2 linked regions of the Homo sapiens genome follow. Changing the gene in region 1 together with any one later gene gives a genetic interaction. Each region holds a gene or a part of one and is shown on either strand. Other genes may lie near its edges.

What was found.
Region 2: changes in SKIC8 (region 1) and POLN together harm fitness more than expected from each alone (negative genetic interaction), as found in Homo sapiens cells (one large-scale study listed by BioGRID).

The regions. Positions count from the first base shown.
Region 1 is NC_000015.10:78,289,610-78,293,109, reverse strand, and holds part of SKIC8 (superkiller complex protein 8), read left to right. Parts: intron 1-321; coding exon 322-494; intron 495-3,010; coding exon 3,011-3,159; intron 3,160-3,397; coding exon 3,398-3,491; intron 3,492-3,500. UniProt on the Homo sapiens protein: Component of the PAF1 complex (PAF1C) which has multiple functions during transcription by RNA polymerase II and is implicated in regulation of development and maintenance of embryonic stem cell pluripotency.
Region 2 is NC_000004.12:2,071,418-2,074,769, reverse strand, and holds the end of POLN (DNA polymerase nu), read left to right. Parts: intron 1-1,740; coding exon 1,741-1,802; intron 1,803-2,470; coding exon 2,471-2,656; 3' UTR 2,657-2,852; downstream 2,853-3,352. UniProt on the Homo sapiens protein: DNA polymerase with very low fidelity that catalyzes considerable misincorporation by inserting dTTP opposite a G template, and dGTP opposite a T template. Is the least accurate of the DNA polymerase A family (i.e. POLG, POLN and POLQ).

The DNA of each region.
Region 1 (3,500 bases):
CTGAACTCTCCAGTTGCAGTCCGGGAAATACTTTTTTCTAGGCAAGAAAGCAATAGCAATATGGTGGTATAAAACAGCAGCTTATTTTTCCCACTTGTTTTCCTGTTACTCTGTATTAAAGCCCTAAAGTTAAAAAAAAAAAATCTTAAAGTCCTACATTTAAAACCTGGCAGCATTTGGTGTTCTGTAGCTCATTAACTCTTCTCTGATTCTGTATTTCATAGACCATTGGTATTGCATAGTCACAGGGACCCAGAATTTCAGATGCCAGGTAAAGTGTGTTCTTTGTGAAGAAATCCATTTCTCTGTCCCCTGTTGAAGGCGTGATGAGAGGCTGGACCTACAGTGGAGTCTGGAGGGACATCAGCTGGGAGTGGTGTCTGTGGACATCAGCCACACCCTGCCCATTGCTGCATCCAGCTCTCTTGATGCTCATATTCGTCTTTGGGACTTGGAAAATGGCAAACAGATAAAGTCCATAGATGCAGGACCTGGTAAGAGTTTTACTTGTAGGGGAGATAATAGAGGTTCATGATTTCTTTTCCAAAATCTTTAGGGATAGAATGTGTTTTACAGCTCAGAATTTTTTGGATTTGAGAGGGGTGATAATGTGTGCATGAACTGTATTTCACATAATACCCTCAGTGGGGCTGGAAACAGCACTGTAATGAAAGACTAATACCTCTGCAAGTAAACATGAATGTTTACACTAAGGGAGATAAATAAAGGCTATAAATAGCCTTATGTCAATTCAGGTTAGATTTTGCTGCCAAATGAATTTTGGTAGTAAACCTGTAGAAAAAGCTTGTAGTTTCCAGAGCTTTTTGGATTTCAAAACTGCTGGTTTGGCGTTGACCTGTATTTTGCATTTTCCAGAGGTTCTTTATTTGCCATATTCTGAACTGATTCATTCACTGCCTTACGGAAACCTAGAATGTAAAGCATGGGGTCCTTATAGATCTGTATCATGGTCATCTCTACTAATTTTGATTAAAGGGTGTGATTCTTGGTATGTGATACATATGAAACTTTTAAGAAACATCAATTTTTTTTGTTTTAAGTACTGTAGAACAGCATAATCTTGTCCATCAGCCTCAGTAAACATCATCTGAGATGACAGAAATTAATGATGTCATAGGCTGACTAATGTGGAGCAGCAGAGGACATTTCAGGATTCTTTTGAACTTCACATTTACTTATAAATGGCTGCACAACATTCCCCAGCAGAACCTGCTCTGCCAGAATGGGTGGTAACTGCTAGAGGGTGCAGATAGCCTGGCATTTCTCTGGCACACCCCTTTTTGGGTTGATGATAGAAGAGCTGCTTAGGTGTTCCATGAACACAGTTCCCTTGATTGGTGCCCTGGATGGATTCGCCTCCCGCCAGTTATGCTCAGTAGCCACTCTAGGCTGTTCCTGTATTGGAAAGAATGATGGTCCCAGAGTTTTTAAAGAGGCTGGGTTGTCTGGAAACTGAGTGCATTTTCCCTCAGAAGCAATATTTCTTGTCTGTAATTCTTACCACTGGAGCTCTTTTAAGAATATGCCTGCCCAGTCCATATTTTGGATCCACTGAATCATAGTGTTCAGAGTACGTGGGGTGGGATATGTATTTGGAAAAAGCTACCCAGACGCACCCTGACTCCCCTGATGGTTGTCTTTACATGTACCCTTACCCTGCTTACATTACTTACAGAGGACTTGGGTCCCCAAACTATCCTGCAAAGTCTATTAAGACTCCAATATATAAGCATGGTCTTAAGAAAAGAGGAAGAGACAGAACTGTTTCTACCTTTTCATCTTGGGCGCCTAAGCTTTCCCTGGGCTCATAATGCTGGTGTTATTCCATGCTGGTTGTAGCCCTGGGCACAAGGCAGCTGAAGAAATCAGTGCTGGATTGGTTCCAAGTAAAAGGATGGCGTATGTATCTAGCTCACTTTCTCTGATAAACAGTACCTTTTACTGGATATTCTCCAAGTGTGGCAAAGTTTTAAAGGTTACTGTTATGAAAGAAAAAGAAGAGGCCAGGTGTGGTGGCTCACACCTGTAATCCCAACACTTTGTGGGGCTGAGGCGGGTGGATTACTTGAGGTCAGGAATTCAAGATCAGCCTGACCAATATGGTGAAACCCTGTCTCTACTAAAAAATACAAAAAATTAGCTGGACATGGTTGTGTGCACCTGTAGTCCCAGCTACTCAGGAAGCTGAGGCAAGAGAATAGCTTGAACTCGAGATTATGCCACCGTACTCCAGCCTAGGTGACAGAGCAAGACTCAATCTCAAAAAAAAAAAGGAAGAATGGGGTCTGAGAGTTGGATTTATTTTCTTTTTGGATAGGACTCTGCATAAAACTAGACCAGGCCATTAAACAGCCAACAGTTATTTGGTCCAGTAACAAAAGCAAGCATTGCTATTGACAGCTAAAGAGCAGCTAAATTCATCTGAAGGTAAAACTCCTTGGATGAATTTGGGTCTAATGAATGTAGGGAAAATAGACACTTAGTTTCTACCTATCTTGAAAATATGCATGGAGAATCTGAACCACCACACAGGAAGAGAAAAAGAGAAGAGAGACAATCCCCAGTCGTGGAGAAGTAAGGAAGTAGGAGGAAGCGAAGACCATGAGTGTACCAGTCTTTGTGTGGACATATGTTTTCATTAGGAGTAGAATTGCTGAGTATCATGGTAAGTGTTTGTTTTCACTTAAGAAACTGTCAAACTGGTTTTCAAAGTGGCTGTGCCGTTTTACATTCCCACCAGTGTATGAAGGCTCTGGTTTCTCCACATCCTTGCTAACACTTGATATTGTCCTATTTTAATTAAAAATTTAAGAAACCCTTAAACTAAATTTAAACTTGATAAAGAATTAGCATCTTTACAACATAATTTTCTGAATCAGGACACTGCTACTCCGATTTAAAAAGATGTATCCTTTGGTAAAACTTTAGTTTTTAAAATTAAGGCCAAGTCTTTTCACACTGTATTTTTGTCCTTCTTTTTTCTGTTCAGTGGATGCCTGGACTTTGGCCTTTTCTCCTGATTCCCAGTATCTGGCCACAGGAACTCATGTCGGGAAAGTGAACATTTTTGGTGTGGAAAGTGGGAAAAAGGAATATTCTTTGGACACGAGAGGAAAATTCATTCTTAGTATTGCATATGTAAGGAAACATTGCTCTCTGTTCTCCTTCTGATTCTTTCAGTTTACCCTTCCAGCCTGTTGCAGTCCTTGCCACAGATTCTGTCTTGGTCTGGTCAGGCAGCTGCTGTCTCACTGGTGTGGTTTGCCAAGTAGCCAGTTAGACCTGTAGATAGCAGGAGGTTTGCTTGTGTTTGGTAGGGACAGCTTAACAACACGGAGTCTGAAAGTGCTAATTTCTCCATATGTTCTCTGAACAGAGTCCTGATGGGAAATACCTAGCCAGTGGAGCCATAGATGGAATCATCAATATTTTTGATATTGCAACTGGAAAACTTCTGCATACCCTGGAAGGTATATATC
Region 2 (3,352 bases), on another chromosome or scaffold:
GCCAGGTCTGTAAACAGCCGGGGCAGCTTCACGTGTTGGGAGAAGAGGCACGGGGGCGTCAGGGCTGGAAGCTTCAGGCACCAACTCTCGAGTGGTGGTCGCCATGCCCTCCTAGCCCCACCCTCTCCAGGCCTTACCCTTAGGGGTGTGAGGCTCCCATCCCTGGGGCCCACCCAGACCACTCCATCCTAAAGCAGGGCTCTGCCACTTGAAAAGTATGTCCAGCCACTCATTTGAAAACACACCCACCTTACGTGACCATTTAACAAGTATAACGTGTGCTCAGCTGTAGGTTAAAAAAGGAAAGAAAACGTTCCCAAACGGCCTTGTTCCCGGGAGCAGCTTCCTCCAGCTGGCCTGGCAGCTCCTGAGGCAGGCTGCAGCCTGTGCTCTGCTCTCTCAGGAGCACTCGGGGCCAGGGACTGCAGGGCCTGGGGAACCAGGGGTCGGGCGGGGCCTGCACCATCCCTGAAGGGCTGGGGGTCAGGTCATATCTCCCAGGCGGTGTGTAGCGCCCAGCATCTCTGCCCTGCCTGCCCTCCCGAGGGCCCCACAGGGAGCGCTCCAGCTGAGTGCCAGCTCAGCCCCACGCTTGCTGCCCCTCTCTGAGCAGCAGTTGCTTGGGATCACCCGCTCAGTCAACAGCACCACCCCACCAGGCACAGAAGAGGGACCAGTTCTCTGCATACTCAGGGTAGCCCCAGCCAGCATGAGGAGCCAATGGTCCAGCTTGGCCTGGGCCGGCTCTCCAGCCTCGCCCCCATAAGAAGGTCCCCAGGGGGGCCCAGGTCCTTCTGCAGGGCTCCCCACCATGCACATGGGCCGTGTGCCCACCTGCTGGCCGACAGCTCCCTGCAGACGGTGACCGGCTCCTGCACAGAAGACATTGAGGGCCACAGAGCTTGGGTGGCCGCTGGCCCTGCTCAGGACACACCAGGGACAGGTCCCCAGGGAGACCCTCGCTCTGCTGGGGCCAGCAGGGCTGGAAAGTGAGGTGGCGCCCACCACGGCTTGGGGCTCCTGCCGCCATCTTTGCATTGCAGTGTCACACAGCACAAAAGGACTGAACGAATGTTTATCCAGGGGCTCCAGGTTTCAGAGCAAGCCCTGAGAAAGCCTGAGCTTGCGGGTCCCACCTCTGGCCCCTGCCCAGGCCTTCCCTTTCGTAGGGCTCTGAGCCCCACTGCTGCATGGTGATCCACGCCCCAACAACGGGGTCAGCCTGCCTGTGGCACAAAGCCACTGTTGCCTCAAACTTCACCGGGCAGTAGTGGGGATGGGGGGTTCTTGTGTGCCTGGTGGCTCTGGCTGGTGGGGGCTCCCTGTGCCTCCCCCATCCTCCCAGCCCCAGTGGCTCTGGAACAGAGCTGGCATGACGCCTGCCCCACCCCATGGCCCCCAGCTGGGGTGAGCTGAGCCGGAGGGGTAGGGGTGAGGGCCAGTGCAGTGTGGTGGGCCAGGCCAGGAGGAGGGGCTGCAGCGAGGGCCAAGGGGCCTGCGAGAGGCATCCTGGACTGTGGATGGGGCCGGGGGAGCTGGACTCAGCCTCAGGGGCTGGGCACTCAGGGGCTCCTTGTGGGCATTAAGGTCCCACAGCTGGTTCAGGTGACCGAGTGGACACAGGAAACAAGGGGGCTCAGGGGCCGGGGCAGGACTCGGGCCTGAAAGTTCTCTTATCTTCGGCTCCCAGGCCCCAAGGCCAAGAGACCAGCAGGGCCTCCTCTCTCTTCCGCACTCTAGCTCTCGTCAGGAGGACCATGGAGTCCTTGGAACAGGTGCAGGCATTGGAGCTGCAGCTTCAGGTGAGGGGACACTTAAGCCTGCCCGGTCTTCCGGAGCCCAGGGTGAGGGGAGGCCAGCACCCCCAGGGCAAAAGAGCCAGGCCAAAGGGTGCAGCCCCAGCCCCGAGATGGCCACTCCACAGCAGGCACAGCCGTGGAGGCTGGACCGTCCCTGAAGCCCGGGAAGCCCCACCCGACTCTGCTCACTTCAGTGAACAGGGACGGCAGCCGGGGCTGGACCCCTCCCTCCCTGTCAAGAGCTGTGAAGGCTTGGTCCACTCAAGGTCAGGGACCCCCGGGAGGGCTCTCCTGGCCTCTAGGAGCCACCAATCCTCCCGGGGGCAGGACCCTGAGGGGCAAGCACAGGATGCCCCAGGACACACCCACCCATCCAAGGGCACCTTGTCTGCCGGCCGCAGCCTACCCACTGGCACAGAGGCCCTGGCAGGTGGGGGAACCTCCGCCAAGATCGAGGTGTCGTGACTGGGAGGTGGATGTGGCATAAGCCTGTTGCTGGGCGAGTGTGGTGAGTGTGCACGTGTATGCACATGTGTGCGTGTGGCTGTCTGATCATGTATCTGGATGTGTGCACCTGTGTGCTGTAGGCCCTGTCCCCCTGCTTGGGGTCTGGGAGGTGGCTGGGGGTGGCTGGCCCAGGCGTGGGGCTCACCTCTGGCTGCCACCTGCAGGTACCCCTCAAGGTGAGCCTGAGTGCCGGCCGCTCATGGGGACACCTGGTGCCACTGCAGGAGGCCTGGGGCCCTCCGCCAGGCCCATGTCGCACTGAGTCTCCCAGCAACAGCCTGGCTGCCCCTGGGTCCCCTGCCAGCACCCAGCCCCCACCCCTGCATTTTTCGCCTTCATTTTGTCTGTAGCCCCAGGCAACAGTGGGAGGAGAGAACTGGTTTCCAGCAGTCCATTGTGTGGCCTTCCCCAAGGTCACCAGCTCTGTACGCCCCAGGACGCATTAACCCTTTGGGGCTGGGGTGGCCCGCCATCCCCTGGAGTAAATGCCTGTGCAAAGCCCTCCTCATCCTTGTCTGAGTGAATTCTTCCTGTGAGTGGGAAGTGCCGCGTCCACCACCCCCAGCCACTTGGCCGGGGCAGGGCTGAGTGCCCCCAGTTGGGAGTGACCCAGGCTGGGTCTGGGCCAGACACTCCAGACTGGGTAGGCACTCCCAGCTCCCTCTCCCATGGATTCCAGGGGAGGGGGCTGCCTCGTGGCTCAGCAGCTGCTCCCCCCGGCAGGTGTCCAAGAAGCCACCAGCTCTGACGCCCTATGGTGTCACCCCCTGCTGGCTCCCTTCGCTTTAGGAAGCCATGGCCCAGGGCGTGCACCGTCCTCCCAGGCCAGCCCAGCGTGCAGCCCTGTACTGAGATGGAGAGAACACAGCCTCCCCGCAGGCACTGAGGCCCCTAGAGCTTGTGTTCCCGACTGATGTGTCAGGAGGACCAGAGGAGCCCCTCTATGAGAAGACCTGGCCACCCACTGCAGGCCTCCCCCATGGATGCAGCCTAGGGGCCACCGAGGACCCGCGGGCGTCTGGGGTCACATGCTCTCAGGCCACAAG